Homo sapiens: one gene and its partners. The protein of the gene in region 1 purifies or fractionates together with the protein of each later gene. This does not show direct contact. Each region holds a gene or a part of one and is shown in the gene's direction. Other genes may lie near its edges.

What was found. Proteins that work in one complex are often made in the same cells at the same time.
Region 2: the proteins of UTRN (region 1) and PLEKHA2 purify together in Homo sapiens (affinity purification with mass spectrometry; 2 studies listed by BioGRID and IntAct, with this or other methods). This does not show direct contact.
Region 3: the proteins of UTRN (region 1) and MARK1 purify together in Homo sapiens (affinity purification with mass spectrometry; 2 studies listed by BioGRID and IntAct, with this or other methods). This does not show direct contact.

The regions. Positions count from the first base shown.
Region 1 is NC_000006.12:144,848,304-144,853,536, forward strand, and holds the end of UTRN (utrophin), read left to right. Parts: intron 1-2,685; coding exon 2,686-2,694; 3' UTR 2,695-4,731; downstream 4,732-5,233.
Region 2 is NC_000008.11:38,939,339-38,946,371, forward strand, and holds part of PLEKHA2 (pleckstrin homology domain-containing family A member 2), read left to right. Parts: intron 1-4,450; coding exon 4,451-4,499; intron 4,500-6,785; coding exon 6,786-6,883; intron 6,884-7,033. UniProt on the Homo sapiens protein: Binds specifically to phosphatidylinositol 3,4-diphosphate (PtdIns3,4P2), but not to other phosphoinositides. May recruit other proteins to the plasma membrane.
Region 3 is NC_000001.11:220,524,206-220,531,161, forward strand, and holds the start of MARK1 (serine/threonine-protein kinase MARK1), read left to right. Parts: upstream 1-3,930; 5' UTR 3,931-4,617; coding exon 4,618-4,668; intron 4,669-6,956. UniProt on the Homo sapiens protein: Serine/threonine-protein kinase. Involved in cell polarity and microtubule dynamics regulation. Phosphorylates DCX, MAP2 and MAP4. Phosphorylates the microtubule-associated protein MAPT/TAU.

The DNA.
Region 1 (5,233 bases):
AAGTTGCCCTCTAGGCATATTCACGTTCATGAGCACAGGCACCAGAATGGGCTGAGTATTGGCATTTAAAAAGTTGAAGTTGGGGTTTGACAAAGTGAGTACAGTGATTCAAGGGAAGAGGCAAAGAAGTGATTATAATGATTGAACCAGATGCTTAAGCTCAGTAGTGAAAGGAATGAGGAAATGTCCAGTGTGGGAGACAGAAATAAAGATGGGAGGATCAATGGATCCTATTGTCAAAGGATGGATAAATTTGCAGTTGTAGGGGAAGTAAGCTGTGGAGGTAGAGGTGGTTGTCAGAAGCTAGGTTGAATGATACTGAAATTAGAGGGGTTGCAAGTATTGGTAATGGTCCATATTTGGACCTTTGTGTGAATGGCTAAGAAGGTTGGAGGACAGGACCATTGGAGGAAAAGAGCCTAAAGAACCAAGAAGCCAGAGTGCTGGAAGAATCATCTCCATGGGTGTTGAAATCACTAACATTTAAAAATGGCTTTAGAGTAGGGGACTTTGAGCCATTTTTTACTTCAAGAAGTGAAGGAACATGACCTACGGAGTCAGTAGATGACTGCATAATGGAGTCATATAGTCTGATGATATGAGATTCAAAGCTGGGTGTTTTTAGGGAGAGGAGAAAGAAGATACCCCAGAGGCCCCAATGAGGACCAAGGAAGACTCATGCAGTGTATGAGGAATGGGGGAGAATGGGGAGGGGAAGTGCTGTGTGAGAGGGTTATGAGGGAAGCTGTGTCTTCAGGTAGATGCAGATATTGATTAGAGCAAGTAGATGCAGGCAGCATTCAGAGAAGGGTTTGGGAACATGGGTTTTGCGGATCACAGGCCACATGACCTATAGGACAGGTTTCAAGAGCTAGGAAGAGTGAGGCATAGGGTCACAAAAAGGGGTATGCAGATCTCTATATGACTAGAATACAGGTGATGGAAGGGCAACCAGGAGTCTAGAGCTTTTTAGGGTGGCCCATTAAAATTAGGGATAAAGGGTACAAAGAGGTTAGTCCTGATGGTCCCCAGGTGGAATGAGGCTGTGAGTGACAAAGGCAAGGAGGGAAGAGAGAATCTTTTAAAATCCTCAGATATAATACAAGTGCTCAGAATTTAAAGCAGAAAATTATCTGAGGAGGCCTTCTCCTCCTACTCTGTTTCTAGATTTTAGAAATTGAGTTTACAAAGAGCTAAATGGTTCCCAGTTGTACAGCAACTTAGTGGATGGAGCAAACATGTAACTCAATACAAGAGGCCCCTTTCCCATTTTCTTCCTTCCCTTTCCATGTGTTTTTTCCTGCTCTTCTCTTTTCTTCATTTTTTCATGTCTTGGGTCGAATGGAAATTCATGAAAAGTATATATTTTCACCTGGAGGGTTGGGCTAATATTTACATAGCATGATCTTAAATTTTTAGAATTCTGACACCTAAAATGAGCAGTATTGTGTGTCCAATTAATAGACACATCTCATTCTCAAGGATAATGGAGTATATAGGCACAATTCAAAAATCCTCTTGGCTTTATATTTAACATGAATCAGCGCCAGAGTTTCAGTTATCAATATTAATATGTAACAAAATGTTCCTTTCTCATATGGGGTTAATCTCTCCCCTTCTCTGTCCTCAAACCACTTCTTTGAATTTACTGTGGCCGGCACTTACCTCATATTACAATTGAATGAGGCTGCCTGGCTGAGATATCTTCCACACCTGCTTCACAGGAGGGCCTCCCCTCAGTACAATGCCTGGAACCCATCAGTGTTTGCTGAATTTTTGCTCCCTCTAACATGGCAATCAAATGTTCAAAATGGAGAAGCAAGTGTCTGAAGAATCCAAATTTGAATAGTCATGGAGAATGGGCTCTAGGCCAGAGTCAAATGAGTTTGCTGCTTTCAGCATACCTGGGAAAAGGAGGGGCTCCGTGGGCAGTTTTTCCAGTGGCTTCATTAGGAACATGCTTCCAGGGAGCAGGATAAAGTCCCCCATAAAATAAGGTGTAAAGACAGATGGAATATCTTTCCTGAGGGTCCAGAAAGGCCTTTTATGATTTATGAGGCATGGACCAGTTTGGATGATTTCATTTTAGCACTTTTTTTTTATTTTTTTCTAATTTCAAAATCCTTTTAGAAGACCAAATGTTTGACCTTCCCTTCAAAAGGTTGATACCACTTCCATGAGTGTGGCCTGGATTTATATTGTCTCTGACCTGGGACATTTAACTTTAACTGGCACCACTAAACACCCTTGGGTTATGATTCCTGCCTTGCCTTCCTCTTCTCTGGACTCCAGCTTGGGATCAAGATGGTTGGCATTGTTAGGGTACCCCCTCTACAGATGACCTCCCACAGTCCCCCAGGAAGACATGGGATATTTTCACCAGCCTCATTCGCTCACCATTGGTACCTTCAGCAGAAAGAAATGAAGTCCTCTCCATTTTAACTTTGCTTCCAGCCTGGCCAAGAGAAAAGACTTTCAGACTTCCCTCTAAATCAGCTGCAGTGATAGAAAGCAGACTAGGTAACTTCAGCATGAGAGGGAGGGACCTCATTGCAGGAAGCAAAAGTCACAGTAGAGTTAAGACTCTTGAAAGAAGCACTTTTATTTTCTTGAAGAATTGACAGATCTCTGCTTCCTGTAATGTTTTGTGCAAATTTCTGACAGTGCTATTTTCCCTTCCCATAGGCAATGTGAAGTATTCATCCGGCCAACCAATGTTTCCTGACGTACAGTGTTGCCCTTTTCAGCAAATGCCAATTCCAAGTTCCATTAAATCAGAAGCTCCATGGCTCCTTGGCCCACGATGTTGAGTGCTGACTGTGTGTTCTACTGAAAGAGTAAAACACTGACTATCCAAAGAGAAATGGATATTTTGTTTTTATAATAACCATATATTATTGTTTTCTTCTTCCCTTTCTATGCAAGTGTAAATTAATGAACAGAGAGGTATTTGGAAATGGTAATACATTTGTCACGGATTTGTATAATGTATACAGCATTGGGAAAGTGGGTGGGGGCTTTCTAATATGATACCGTCTTTTTAATAACTATGACAAAGCTTACATAAGAATTAGAAGACCACTTTACATTTTTACATTCCTTCTGCTGTTCATATTAACCTTGCACAATTACTTCATTTTTTCTTTGACTCTTTTACCACAATGTTTTGGTTATTTATAATTTATCAGCCATATGTTTATCAGCCATATAACCAACTAGATCCCAAATAGATCCATGTATTTGTTTCCGTGATTTGGCCACATTAATAAATTCATAAATTTCAATCAAATATCTTATATATACACACATATGGTTTAAGCTACAGCCCTGTGTATGCCGTTTAACTTTATTTGACGTTGCCCACTTACTTCTTTGCTGACCACTTGGATAACCGTAATAAAAATCCTATAAGCCTAAATGGCATTTCTTTTGGGATATTTTTCCTGCATTTTATTCCCTTTTTATATAAGTAGGAATTAATTATTTATTTTATGTCTTAATCTATTTGATAAAGAAGACTACATTATAATAATCTCAAAGATCATATTACCAAAGGTTGCCCACTTGAGCATATTTTCATTTTGACACAGAAACAAAATTTAGTACAACCTTTCCTAGTTCCCATGTCTTGATTTTCATCATTACATGCACAGCAGACCTTTACCTATTGTGATACCAGAACACATCATTGTCTTTGGTTCCCTTCAAAGAGAATTTTATTGTTGTTTTGTATTTTCAAGTCCTTAATAGTTCTTGAAACTCCTAGTTGTTTTCTTGTTGAAAGCAGACACACATTTAGTGCACGGCTTATTTTACCTTTCGGGTGAAAGATCAGATGTTTTTATACCCTTCACTTGATCAATATATTTGGAAAGAATGTTTATCAAAAGTCTATGTCACTGCTTCTACAGAAGAATGAAATTAATGCTTAGGTGATGGTACCTCCACCTACATCTTTTTGAGTGCATTCAATTATGTATTTTGGTTTAGCTTCTGATTTAACATTTAATTGATTCAGTTTAAACATGTTACTTAATTAGCAAATGTAGAGGAACCAAAAAAAGGTGAAAATAATATGTTTTGATTCAAACCTAAAGACATAAAAACATAAAGACATTTTAACTTTGGGTTCTCTTTAGCTGGGATCTGGCCAGAAGGAGGCTTAAAGTTAGAAATTGCTATTATTTTAGAATAGGTTGGGTGGGTTGGGGGGCAAGGGTGTCTATTTGCAGCAGAGATATTTTGAAAAGAAGAAAATTGTTTTATATAAAAAGGAAAGCCATGACCACCTTTCTACCTCAGATCCATCTTCATCCATTGCATTGGAAACTGCTTTATGCTGCTGCAGTCTGCAAAGTCTAGAGCTTTTATCAGGCCATGTCATACCCAAGAAAGCACCTATTTAAAGAAAAAACAATTCCCTGAGCTCTCAACTCCAAGTTGTAGATTTGGTGTCTTCCTTGTTCTTACTTTAAAAAGTCATGTGTTAATTTTTTTTCTGCCTGTATTTGTATGCAAAATGTCCTCTATCTGCTATTAAAGAAAAGCTACGTAAAACACTACATTGTAACCTTCTAAGTAATAATAAATAAAAAGAAATATATTGCAGTAACAATGGGAAGTAAGTATGTAGTTCTTTTGAAATATGTGGTAAAGAACTAATCACAGACTATCATCTAATCTGGTTACATATTGTATTTTTCATCCTGAATAAAAGTAATTTTAACACAAGATGACTTTGATATTCTTCAGCTGGATTCACTGATAGAATGTGAGTTTTGAATGCACATTTATGAAAACAAGATATAGAGATAGCCTGTGTCCTGATACATCTACATTTTTTCCTGCAGTTTCTCTCATACACACTAATACAGTCTCCTGTTGCTCTCATTCTCTCTCTCTCCCCATCTCTTACACATACATATAATTATATGATTCTCAATTTATTTTCCAGATAGAAGGTTTATTGATAGAGAAAAGTAATATTGGATGTAAAAATGTGTACATAAAACCTGTTGAGTGTTTTAATAACTAGATGCTGTTGACATTAAGTTCCTTTCAAATGTACTTTTAGTTTCATGCTCTCAAATACTGTATGCTTTTTATCCGTACACTGGATTTTAACCACTCTAGTAGGTTTAATCAATTTCTGAAGCCATTCAGTGGGAAACAATGTTGAGAATCATGTTGCTTTATTCTAAAATTAAAAGCTGTCTATGAACTAGAAAAATCA
Region 2 (7,033 bases), on another chromosome or scaffold:
GAGGGTCTTACCCTTGCAGTGAGCCAATCAGGGCAGAACCAGAACCGATCCTGTTAATTCAGCAATGAGTTGGTTTGCCGAATCGCCCTTCCATGGTAAGCCATTAGGCATGAGGCCAATGATGGTTGTACACGCATGCACTCACACGTGCACTCTCACATGCCTCCTGACCAAAACTGGATAAACAGAGGAAAGCAAACAAACAAACCCAAAGCCAGACCGTCTCTTTGAAGGCTCCAGTTCCCATAATAAGCACATGGGTAGCATTCTCACAGCACAGGCTGGCTAATCAGTTGTGGTCAAAACGAGCATTTGTTATCCAAACAGAATTAAAACAGTCCGCCTGTGGTGCTCTCTCTAGTCAGTGACAAATAGGAGTTTTTCAGAGAAAAGGCAGTTCTCCTAATAAGCCAGAAAGGGTCTTGGAGTGCCCAGTTTTTCAATGTCATTCTAAAGCTGGAAGTAGGTTGGGCATAGTGACTCATGCCTGTAATCCCAGCACTTTGGGAGTCTGAGGTGGGAGGATCGCTTGAGGCCAGGAGTTCAAGACCAGTTTCAGTAACATAGCGAGACCCTGTCTCTACAAAAAAAATTTAAAAAATAAAATTTAGCTGAGCATGGTGGTGAGTGTCTGTAGTCCCAGCTACTTGGGAGGCTGAGTTGGGAGGATCGCTGGAGCCCAGGAGTTTGAGGCTGACCAAGCCATGACTGCACCTCCACACTCCAGCCTGAGACAGAGTGAGACCCTATCTCTTAAAAAAAAAAAAAAAAAAAAAGGGCCAGGCGTGGTGGCTCACGCCTATAATCCCAGCACTTTGGGAGACCGAGGTGGGTGGATCACCTGAGGTCAGGAGTTCCAGACCAGCCTGGCCAACATGGCGAAACCCCATCTCTACTAAAAATATAAAACATTAGCCAGGTGTGGTGGTGCGTGCCTGTAATTCCAGCAACTTGGGAGGCTGAGGCAGGAGAATCGCTTGAACCTGGGGGGCGGAGGTTGTAGTGAGCCAAGATCGTGCCATTGCACTCCAGCCTGGGTGACAGAGCAAGACTCTGTCTCAAATAAATAAATAAAGCTGGAAGTAGAAGGGGAGGATGAGATTGGTGGGTTCTGAGGGCTGGGATGGCCAAACACAGTTCTGCTGTGGTCAGGATTATGCAGAGATCAGGGGCAGAACAACCAGGAGTTATGGACCAGAGGACTGCAGGAATGTGGACGCTGAGGGCCAAAGCAAGAAAATGAGTGACTGACAGATTAACACTCAGGTGTAAGCAGGACAGAAGTCTATGCCGTGGTCCAGATTGAAGGGGCGGGGGGGGGGGGTCAGAAACCCAGGAAGCAAGATGTCTAGGGGCCTGGACTATTGTGTTATGGAGCCACCAGCGTCCTCTTACTGTGAGTTGACACACAACTGAATTTGGATCCTCTGTGTCCGAACTTGGGATAAGCGGGTTTACCTTTGCTCAAATCATCATTTTTTTAGGTTTTTCGTAGGCTCTGTGGCTTTCACCTCACATCTCAAAATGTACATCCCTTATTAAATATAATTGGCTATTATATATATATATAAAATATTTGAAAGGATTTTAATCATTTTACTTTTGGAATGATTTGGCTCTGAGTAACTCATCCAATTTGTAACTGGCTCTAATTTCTGGGCAATCATCTTGCACACGCACAAAAGGATTCTTGTGAGCTAAGAAAATCTAAGGTATCTTTTTTTTTTTTTTTTTTAAAGACAGAGTCTCGCTCTGTCACCAAGGCTGGAGTGCAATGGCGGGATCTCAGCTCACTGCAACCTCCATCTCCCGGGTTCAAGCGATTCTCCTGCCTCGGCCTCCCAAGTAGCTGGGATTACAGGCATGTGCCACCACACCCGGCTAATTTTGTATTTTTAGTAGAGACAGGGTTTCACCATGTTAGTCAGGCTGGTCTCGAACTCCTTACCTCAAGTGATCCACCGGCTGTGGCCTCCCAAAGTACTGGGATTACAGGCGTGAGCCACTGTGCCCGGCCTGGTACCAATTATTTTCAAATGAAAAACTTTTTAATGTTTCATTGAAAAATTAATGACGTTTACTTGACGTAACATCCTGTACGCATTTAAATACTTGTCAGGGAGGTTGATATAATGTTATGTAGGCATTCAATTAAATGTTTATTAACACCAGATACAGCATCTTCACTTTGTATGTAGGAGGCCAGGCAATTTTTTCAGGTTTCATACAGTTTTGCAGGCCCAGAGAAACTCATGGACCCTCAGCATTTTGCCCGTAGTTCCAGGTGGGACACTGCCTGTGTTGATGTGTGGAGTGAGGCTTTAAAGGAAATGAGGTATCAAAAGCTATAAATAATCCCTCCTGGGTTGAGCAGATTCTGTGTGGAAGAATGACTGTCTTACCTGCACTATCATATTTAACCCTCATGATAACCCTGTGAGAACACGATATTATGATCCCTTATTTGATAGAACAGGAAATGGAGGTCATTCAGTTGGAACACCTGTCATTTGAGACTCTCTGTCTCTGCCTGACCTTCTTTTGATCTTTTATAAGGTGCCACCTCAGTTCCCATTTATTTGGGGCAATATTAATTTTGGTTAAGGAATCTAGGCAGGTGTATAGCAAGAACTTAGAGCCAAGAGTAAGAACCTAGACAGACTGGTGAGTCAGTCATTGTTAGACCCTAACTGCTGTCAGCCAGGAAGATACTTTAATTTCAATTCAGGACTTTTTCTTTAGCACCTGGCTTCTGATACGCTGCCCGTTAAAGTAGCAGCCAGCCGGTTGCGGTGGCTCATGCCTATAATCCCAGCACTTTGTGAGGCTGAGGCAGGAGGATCACTTGAGGCCAGGAGGTTGAGACCAGCCTTGACAACATAGCGAGACCCCATCTCTAAAAAAAAAATGGAAAAATTAGCTGGGTGTGGTGGTACACACCTGTAGTCTAGCTACTCAGGAGGGTGAGGTGGAAGGATCACTTCAGTCTGAGAAGTCGAGGCTGCAGTGAGCTGTGATTGCGCCACTGCACTCCAGCCTGGGTGACAGAATGAGATGGGGTCTCATTCTGGGCTCAAGTGATCCTCCAGCTTCCTGTCTCAAAGAAAGAAAACCCAAAAAAACCCCACAAACAAATAAAATAAAGTGGGAACCACTCCTGGATCCCCTAGGTGGAGGACATGTCGAAGAATACCCTTGGCTGGAGGGGGATGGAGAGAATGGTATTCAGGGGAGGACTGTGACATCATGTGAATAGTCCCCGGCCTAGGACCCATGGGAAGGTGACTGTCTCTTTAGAGGCTCAGTGGTGGAGGCTCACTCCAGGGAGGCTCAGCCTCCATCAAGGATTGTCCCTAATCTTTGTGGGCATGTGGTGGAATATGAGTTGCTTTCTTTTTTCTTTTGTTTGAGCCTGAATGATGAGAGTTCACATATGCAGATACTCAGGAGTGTACATGCCAGGGGTAGGATTGCCAGAGCAAGATGAAATACAGCAACAGGAGGTATAGAAATACCTCCTCTGTTTCTTGCCCTTCCCTGAGATATATAGGAATGTTCTCCGATTCCATCAGCCCCTCTCTGGGCACCTGGAAGGTGCTTATTTTCATGGTTAGGCCATCAGGGCAGATGTAAAGGCAATTGTTCCATGTGTCTGAGGGCAGCGAGCAGCCTGCTGCTTCATCTCTCTGAGTGTTCTGATTGGAATCCATGCATTTGTAGCAATATTGCCTTCAGCTTGGAGAACGATTTAGGGAGAGGGTTGGCGGTTGAAAGAGGAGGGGAGGAGGGGAATCTTGCTAGTGTGAATGAGGCCAGGATAGGTTTTCGTCAGGACTTAGTGGCTTTTAAAAGTCTTTTTGAGCTGGGTGCAGTGGCTCATACTTGTAATCCTAACACTTTGGGAGGCTGAGGCGGGAGGATTGCTTGAGCCCAGGAGTTTGAGACCAGCCTGGGCAACATAGCAAGACCCTGTTTCTGCAAATATTTTTCTTTTTTAAAAAAAACTAGCCAGGCATAGGGGCATTTAAAAAAAATTAGCCAGGAGGTGGAGACTGGAGGATCACTTGAGCCCAGGAGTTGGAGGCTGCAGTGAGCTATGATTGCACCACTGTACTCCAGCCTGGGTGACAGAGTGAGACCCTATATCTAAATAAATAAATAAATAATAAACATAAGTCTTTTTGTAAAGATGAACAGACCTCAAGATAATGGTTATCTCTGACGGTGGGGATTCTGTCAGGGAGGGGCACACAGGGCTTCTAAGAAATAGGACTGATAATGCCTGTTTCTTAATCTGGATGATGAGTACAGGGTTTTCATTTAATTATTATTTTTTAAAAATGTAGACATATGTTTAATGTACTCTTTATATATGAGAAATTTCACAATAAGAAATCTTCAACATTGTAAGACACATATTCATGTTTCTTTTATTTCTTATTTGATTTAGGTGAGCATAGCTACCCCAAAACAGAAACCAAAAACTCCATTTTGCTTTGGTAAGTACTGAGCCAGGGGAGGGACTCATTTAATATTGACATGGCAACTTCCTCTTTTGCATGGAGACAGTCCTGTGATCACATGTGACTATACCCTGTGAGTATGAGTGACTTAAATCACAGTGACGGTCCTGGACGTCAAGTGATATTGTTTTCCCTGGTCTTGCTGCAAAGGTTGTTAATAACATAAGGACAGAGGTTCAGGGACTAGTAACATTTCTGTTTTCTTTCTTTTTTTTTTGGTTTTAGTTTTATTTTTTAAGTTGACAAATAATAATTATATATATTCATGGGGTACATAATGTATAGAGTAATTAGCATATCTATATTAGTCTGTTCTTGAACTGCTATAAAGAAATACCTGAGACTGGGTAATTTAAAAAGAGAACAGGTTTGCCCGGGCCTGGTGGCTCACACCTATAATCCCAGCACGTTGGGAGGCCGAGGCGGGCAGATCACCTGAGATCAGGAGTTTGAGACCAGCCTGGCCAACATAGTGAAACCCCATCTCTACTAAAAATACAAAAAAATTAGCTGGGCGTGGTGGTGAGTACCTGTAATTCCAGCTACTCGGGAGGCTAAGGCAGGAGAATCTCTTGAACCCAGGAGGCGGAGGTTGCAGTGAGCTGATTTCAGGCCATTGCACTCTACTCCACCTCAAAAAAAGAAAAAAAAAAGAGGTTTAATTGGCTCAGTGTTCTGCAGGCTCTATGGGGCCAGAGGAGAAGCAAGAAAGAGAGTGGGGAGGTGCTATGCATATTTAAATAACCAAATTTCACAAGAACTCACTATTATGACACAACAGCATGGGGGATGGTGTTAAACCATGAGAAACCGCCCCCACGACCCATCATGATCCAGTCACCTCCCACCAGGCCCCACCTCCAACATTGAGGATTACAATTGAACATGAGATTTGGGTAGGGACACAGATTTGGGTGGGGACAGAGATCCAAACCATATCAATGTCCATCATCTCGAACATTTTTTTCTTTTAATAATTGTCCATATGCATTTCAGTTTTCTTGATGCCACAAGGCAGGTGCAAAATGTCCACTATAAGTTTCTGTGAACCTTATTTTAGAGCTGAGAAATGTTGTGCTCAGAAAAGATGGAGGACTCAGAGGAGACGCAGATGGCAGTGCCAGGAAGGGGATAAGACAAAGGAAGGAGAATTCTGTTAAGGGTCTCAGTTGCCCAATAGTGACATGTTGGGGGATGGTGTAGGAGGCAGAGTCACCGTGCATGGGTGCCTCAAGTCAGGAAGTGGTCAGTGAATTCAGTGAATCCATCATCAAATAGTTACTTGGCTCCTACTATGTTCTCACAGCTGTGCTAAGTGCTATGAGCAAATGCTAACAAATAGTTTCTGTTGCCTATCTGGGGTGGTTCTGAATGTAAGTTTCACAAAGGCAGGGGTATTCCTCTGCCTTGTCACTGTGGTATCCTCAGCACTTAAAGATGTTTCCTAGCGCATAGTAGGTGCTCAGTAAATATTTGTCAAATGAATGAATGAACGGATGAATTCTGCATCTACCCCATGAGACTCACCTCCTACAGTTCAAGCTTATGCTAAGAGAATAAAGTATTCCCTTGAGCGATTCTGTCTCCCCACCTCAGATTTGTTCAGACTTCTTTGGCATGCTCATTCTTCTATTTCTTGCAAATTTCATAGCTAAGCTCAGAAATGACTCTCACGTTTTGTGGTTATCAGATCTGAAAATATATATATGTAATAATAGTGAATGTGGAAGTAAATTGTTGACCTAATGGAATGCTCAGAGGAAAGAACAGGTTGAGAGTGAGGCCAAGGTCACAGATTTGATCTCAGGAAAGCTTTGTTCTATTTCCCAACCACAGACAACTCTCCCAGTCCAGACCAGTTGTGCCAGAGGAGACCAAGCATGGGTCCAAAATTCTGTATATACCGTGATGACAGTAAATGTATTAGCACCGCCAGAATGCGGTTCACAGTTGTGTCTTGTTGACGGCAGACCAGCAGCCTCATCACCGCAGAACAGCACACTGAGGCTGCTGTTAACATGGTCAGGTGTTGTTCCTGTGGCCAATGGGATGTTTTTAAAGGTGGGAAAGAGAGTGAGCAGGTGTGGCCTGGGGCTTCCTAGATATCCAGGCAAATGACTTAGCATCATGGGAGATTTCTTGTTCTGCTTTGTGGAGTTCACTCATCTCACTCCCTCAAACACCTTAGCTTTGTGGAGACTTGTTGTATTGCTTGTATTCTGACCTAGGAATGTCTTCCCTTCTTTTCTGTGGCTTTTGTAGTTATCAATGCCCTGTCTCAGAGATATTTCCTTCAAGCCAATGATCAGAAAGATATGAAGGACTGGGTTGAAGCCCTGAACCAAGCCAGCAAGATCACCGTAAGTTTGGTTTCTTCTGTTTTCTGGTGGTAGTAAAAGTGCCTCTTCCCAGGCTATGGCCTTGTTGGGGTTGGGGAAAACTGAGATGGCAGCGGGGACTTTCCCAGGAGCCTGGTCTGTACCCAGTTCTCTCCCACCTCGTCTTTTTCC
Region 3 (6,956 bases), on another chromosome or scaffold:
GATTATTCTTTCCTGATGGACATTAACCTTGTTTCTCTTTAGCTGAGACTGCTCTTTGTTACCTTACCGAACTGTCTATCCTGTAGTTTTCCTGTGTGGCTAAATGAAAGATTGTAAATAGCCTTGTAGTACCTAAAACAAAGTATGCAAATAATTATTGACTGGCCAAGTCTATCAGACATTGGATACATCTAAAGCACATGATATAAAGACATGTGCAGTTTTAAGAGTTTACTATTAATCTGCTGAATCTGTCACATTTGATAAATTCTTTGTTTACAAATGACTGCAATCTGTTAATGCTCATTTGTATGAATTCAACATGTTTTCCACTTTGCTCTTTAAAAAGAATGCGTAAGACTGACTGCCGCTAACTATTAGGTGAAGAATATTCCCCTAGAACAGCACAGCATGGCATGTGGTAGAATGGTGCCCAACAAGCATTTATTGGGTGCCACTCTACCACAGAATGAATTATTAATAGCTTATAATCAAGGCCTTTGATTCTTAAGCAACTAAGCCTTTTTATTCTCAGCTTTGACCATATGGAGAAGTACTGTCCAACAGAGAGATAATGTAATGTAAACCACATATGTAAGTTTATATTTTTTAGGATCTGCATTTGAAAAAGTAAAAAAGAAACAGTTGAAAATGATTTAATAATATATTTTATTTAACCTAATATATTAAAATATTGGCATTTCAATATGAAATGGTTATAATATTTATAAAGAGACATCTTACTCTCTTTTTTTTCCTACTATTTGAAAATGTGGTGTGCATTTTATATTTATAGCACATCCCAATTCAGGTAATACATTTCCATGAGAAATACTTAATCGGTATATAGATTTCAGAAAATTTACAGTTGAAAAAGTAGATTCATATACTTAACATACTTTCAAACATAACACAATTTTTTCAGTCACTGAATCAAATCGGTTTTTAAGTGTAAATTATTTGAAATTGAGTCAAATTAAAAATTCAAGCAACATGTCAAGAGCTCAGTAGTCACATGTAACTGGTACTGGACCCGGTAGTTCTAAAAAATTCTACTCCATAGGGCTGACGGTAGGCAATGCTCTTTTCCCACTTTTCACTGTAGGTTTAGCACCTTTTAGATCTTTATTTCCCTTTTGTTTTGTCAGTACTTCAATTTTCTTCCAAAACTTTCATTACCCTAACACATTAAGTTAGGAACCTGTGAATTGAACATGCCACATTTGGTTAATAACCCAAAAAAAAATTACTCAAAGCCTTAAAATATTCCCTTTGTCATTTCTCCATAGTCACAGACACAGAAGCTATATATAGTAACACAAAAAAATTTTGCTCATGAGCATTTTCATTTCTAAGGACTAGGGTTAAACAGTATTGACTCCATCACAATAATGCCTCATGTCATTTTTTTTTCCTCTCCCATGTTTAAGGATCTACTAATGCCATTTTAAGGGGAGAAGAGCTCATATAGGGACAGACAGTATTTCCTTTTGAAAAACATAGTGACTTTTTTTTTAACCTGGGCAAAGTGCATTTTCACTTAGTTTTCACTACATACCAAGCTTAAAATTGTTAGGTATTAATAAGGATTATTTGAATGGCATTTTCTTTTGGATAGAATTGTTCTATCCAAAAAAACAATTTGGCTAGCTAGAATTATGGATTCGAGCTACCTAGTAATGACTCTCTTTGAATGTAGTTTCACTGTTAGAAGTGTTCTTGGGGATTGACTTAAACAATAAATATCCCTTCCTATTATTATGTGATATTCCGTAAATTTCAATATGTGAAATAGTGAGCATTGTGTAGCAAATATAGCTAAGGGATTTGTCCATGGCTTTTAACAGACACTTTAAAATCTGTGGAAGCCACTGTGCCAGAATCTGGGGCTCTCCTTTAAGCTCTGTCTCGAATTAGCCATTATATCTTATGGGGTGAACCTATGGTTTTTGTGACTGGTGCAAGATTGAACAGCACCACATATTTCAGTTATCTTCTTCTGTATCTTATTAACCTGGTGCATCTGTGATCTTGAACAAGTTAACTTAGTGGAATTTTGTAAAATGGAAATAAATATGCCTGTCAGGGTCACCACGATTATAAAGATAGAAAAATATGTGAGTATACTTTAAAGAGCAAAATACATACTACCAGCTGAAGGAATGATTCATATTCCAATGGGGCTGAACGCCTTTTCACAGCTACTTGTTTATTGCTAGGTTAACTCAGGTACTATTGCAACACTAGGTACCCTTGTGTGGCTGCAGCAGTCAGTGATGCCGCTGACACTGTGATGGCAGCCCCTACAGGCAGCCGTCGCAATAGTTAACCAGAAAATAACCAGAAAAATACAGGATTATGCCCTTGCAACTTCAATGTATCTTGGTGATTCAGGATTTTCTGCAGAGGGCACGTAAATGCTTGACATTCTCAGTAACACATCATAGTTCAGGAGGCAGCATTGCAGTTCCGCTGCCTAAATTCTGTTTGAGAAGTGGTGATGACCACCAAAGGGATCTTGTTTTTTTTTTTTTTTTCATTTGCTTTGTGAAATTGGTAAGTGGTTACAAGAGAAAATGCTAAAGAAATAAGTACACAGATGGTGTTCTAGAAGTGAATATAGACTGGGTGAGAATTGCTTCTTTCCTCAAAGGATTTTTGTGTTTGCTATTTTCAGGTCTTTTGGACCCATGCTTCAAGGGTCAAGTGTTAACTTTTCAGAAACAACCTTTAATGAGTCAGGATAAAAACCATCTGGTTCAGGGATTCTTCTTTCAAATGGAGGAAATTCAGAAGAGACGAGAAATTTCCCACCATTATAAGAATTCCACTGGAGGCATACTGAAGCAGCTCAGAAAATCAATGTATCCGCTCCTATCTTTCATTCCTTTTGTCTTCCTGCCCATCCATGAAAGGAAGTGAAAAAGAAATGTTGCAAAGAAGAATAGAGAGACGATAAGGTTTTCGTTCTACAGGCTGAATGTGCAAAATGTAAGCTCTCAAATGAGATTAAAAAAAAATGCAGCCTTGCTTATAAAAGGCGAATGGGTCCTGGACAATGCACTACAGACGCGGGTGCCTACAGGATGTCTTGAGGCAGGTGGGTGGAAGTGTGAGGAAGCCACCTGGAAGAGGGAGGACAGGGCCCAAATCAGACACAGCTCTCCATCCTCCCTAAACAGGCTCGCCTAAGTGACACTTCCTTGTGTCCCAGGAAGTGACGATCAGCCAGTGTAGATGTTGTGACTCGCGGGTCTCACCCACTCCGAGGGTGCTGCAGGGCGCCCAGAGCGAGACGTCTTCCGCCGGCCCCATTCCCGAAGAGGCCGCGCCGTCGGGGGCTGAGACCCACTTGTACTGAGTCTCCAGCCGCCTCCCTAGGCTGCTGGCGCTTCTAGGGGCTTCTGTGCTTTTTGCCAAACTCTGAGGGTGACCCTGAACCTAACGGCTCCCTAGAGAAGGAGACTGACAGAGGGCTCAGGCGAGGATAGGGATTGAGAAAGCGTGGAAACGGGGGAGGAGGAGTAGAATTTAAGAATGGTAAAAGTCCCGAGGTAGGAGAAAAGGAGGGGTAGGATCCAGGGTAGGATTGAATCCAATTCTTCTCCAATGAAACGGACAAACAAACAAACAAACAAACAAAAACAGAAAGAAAGAAAAAGAAAAAAAAAAGCCACTGATTCACATCAGCTCTCTCTCACCCTCAACCCGGCAAAAACCAAACACGAATAAAAATAAAACCACCAGAGGCTCTTAGACGACCGTAAACTCTGCGGGTGGGGCACGAAACAAAAATAAACACAGGGACAGGCGGGCAAGAGAGCGCGGGAGGAGGAGGAGGAGAAAAAGGAGGAGGAGGAGGAGGAGGAGGCGGCCCCGCATCCCTAATGAGGGAATGAATGGAGAGGCCCCCTCGGCTGGCGCCCGCCCACCCGGCGGCGGCCGCCAAGTGCCTCTGGGCGCTGCGTGCCGCGCCCGCTGCTCCGCGCGCAGCCGGCTCGGGCCGCTCCTCCTGACTGAGGCGCGGCGGCGGCGGTGGCTGTGACCGCGCGGACCGAGCCGAGACATTCGCGCCGGGGGATCGGGCGCCGCCGCCGCTGGGCCCCGGGCGCGTGGATGCGGCTGGGTCGGGCGGCGCCGTACACCTGAGGCGGAGAACGGGGCGCGGCGCGGGTGACGCTGTCAGGGCCGCGGTTCCTGACGCCCAGGCGCTCGCCAGGACGAGCCAGGCAGTGATTTGAGGCACCGGCTTCACCTTCACCCATGGTCCGGAGAGCCTAGCGGGGCTCGCCACCGCCTCCCGGCTCCCCTTCCACGCCTCATCCTGCCAGCCTCGCCGCCCCGCCAGCGCCGGGCAACCGCCTCGCCCGAAGCCCTCCCTCGTTACTGTCCGCATACCCCGGCGGCGCCGCCGCGGGAAGCGGCTCCCCCTCCTCTTCCTCCGCGTCCTCTTCCCTCTTTCCCCCGCCGGGGCCGCTTGTTGCACCGCCCCGCGGCCTGCGGGAGCCGCTCGCCCCGGCCTTGTGCTCGCGTCCGCACCCCTTTCCTGTCGCCCCCCGGGGCCCGCACCACAGCCCGGCCGGCGAGACCCCGGCCAGACCCCGCTGCCCGCACAAAATGTCGGCCCGGACGCCATTGCCGACGGTGAACGAGCGGGACACGGAAAATGTGAGTAACCGGAGCCTCCCTCGGGAGCAGTGGGGGCGAGACCCTCCTCTGATCCCCACTTCACCCGCGCTTGGGCCGTCCCCCGTGCCTCGGCGCGGCCACCCGCGGCAGGGTCTCCACCTGGAGCCCGGCGTGACCCTCACCCACTGCTCAGCCCTATTCTTCATTCCAACCCCATTTCGCTTGTTTCCCCTCAAGGGTGAGGGTAGGGAACCGTAAGTGGCGCCCTCTCGCTCGGAGGTGGTCCTCCAGGGGCGGATGGGGTGATGGAGGGCAGAGAAGCAGAATGGGATGGCAGAGTGGGCAGTCAGGATTGCTTTATTTCTACCTCTGCATTCTGTGCCCCCACCCGAATGAATGCTTGCTTTACAATAGCAGACGAGCCGGCTACCTCTCACACTCTTGCTTTTCTGGATCTTTCAATCCTTTGCACTCTCCCCTCCTCCCCCCGCATTGCCCCATGACTTTGCTTTTTGTAACATTGTGTCCACATTTTGGGTCATGGGCACCAAAGCGAGAAGGATGGGAATGGAAGTGGAGATGTGTGCGTGTTTGTGTATGAGTTTATACTGCTGTGACACTCTTAGTAGGGATGAGTAGAAGAATTTCACGAACAGCATCTATGGCCCTGGGGTTACAGCAAAATGTTGAAAAGCCACATGAAGCCAAGGGCTTTTTAATCTCTTCCTTAAGTCAGTGATAATGATGCAGGGCAGGTTTTACTTTAAATATCTCTCCTCCTTGGAGTGTCACAAGGTGCACATCTTTAAAGGAGGGATTTTCTGTGTCTTTGATCAGATTGCCCTCTGGAGCTGTTATCAAGATGCAGATGTGCCGGGCTTTTAAACTCTTGAAAAACGAAAAGAACAAGATCCCTTGTATTTCCACCTTCTGAAAAGTACAGTTGTGTGTGTGTGTGCAAGTTCCTTTGTGGGAAGGTTTTCTTGTTTTTGTTTTTGTTTAAAACACTCAAGACCTGTAAATAGGGCTTGGCTGATTTTCCGACTGATTTTAAGGACCTAGAGGGGTACTAAGTTTTGGTCAGCTGTCCAGAGCTCTCTGTCTAGTTATCTCATCAGCCGTCCAGCTTTTGATATACCACTGACTTCATGGGGTTGGTAAAATAAAATAACGAAGCGCTTTGGTGTTCTTAGACAAAAGGCATGAGAGAAAGGATACAAGCTCACTTCTGAGTTGTTGGAGGGGTATAAACAGATGATTTCATCTTAGGAGGGAAGCACAGAAATTTAATATAACTATACAAAGAGAGAAGAAATTCTACTAAGAGACCATTGTTAGAGGACCTGTGAAGATGTTTCAGAGTATGCTTTTGTCTTCCCTAGCGCCGTGCATTTAAATGGGAAAGATAGTGTAAGGCTGCTGCTATCATAAATTAGAACTTCATTTGCATCATAACTATTTTAGAAAATATAATTGATACATAATTTTGATTGAGAGATTGAACAAGTTCAGAGAAAAAGATGGATATTTTGGTTTGAGTTGGTTTTAAAGCCGAGTTGGCACAGAATTTTTCTAACAGGAACATTAAAAAAATGCCTGTCATTCAAGAGTGTGAATGAAAAGTATGACAGATGATAACCTTTGTTTTTATTAGCAAATTACTGTATGTGTTAACCCAGGAGGAGTGGAAAAATACATTGTTTTTATTTTCTTTTAGATTTTGAATAGTATAGCTTTTCTCATACTTGTATGAATAAGGTACTTCATAAAGACATGAGATATAATTATAGAAATATGCATTAAGGAATAGCACAAAATGCAGCTTCTCATGTAAGAACACACAAAAAAGGATTTTAAAGCTAAGCAATAATAGTATGATAAATTTTGTTGTGAGTACCTTCTGAAAATGATTATGCTGTATAAACTGATTTGCTGTTTCTGAACATGTTATTTCAAAGTCACTTTTATGGTCTTGTGCCTTATTGTGTTGTACATAATGATATCTCCATTTAGCTTACTTTACCCACACCTTATTTTCTCCTAATTGCTGTGGAAAATATCTATTATATGACACCTGTCAATTAATAAGTATGCACTCAGCATGTTCATTTTTTAGGTAAAGGGTTGGGAAGGGGATATAGAAGTAGTGTTTAAGATAAAGTCTCTCCCTGCAAGGAGCTTACAGAAGAGATAATAATCCCAAACAAGTAATGTATGGTAGAAGACATTGTGTAAATAGGGCTAAATTGGTTTATAGGTGTTATAGGTGTTTATCAAAGAGGCCACCACTGATGGCTACGAAATCACCATTGGTGACTCTCTTTATT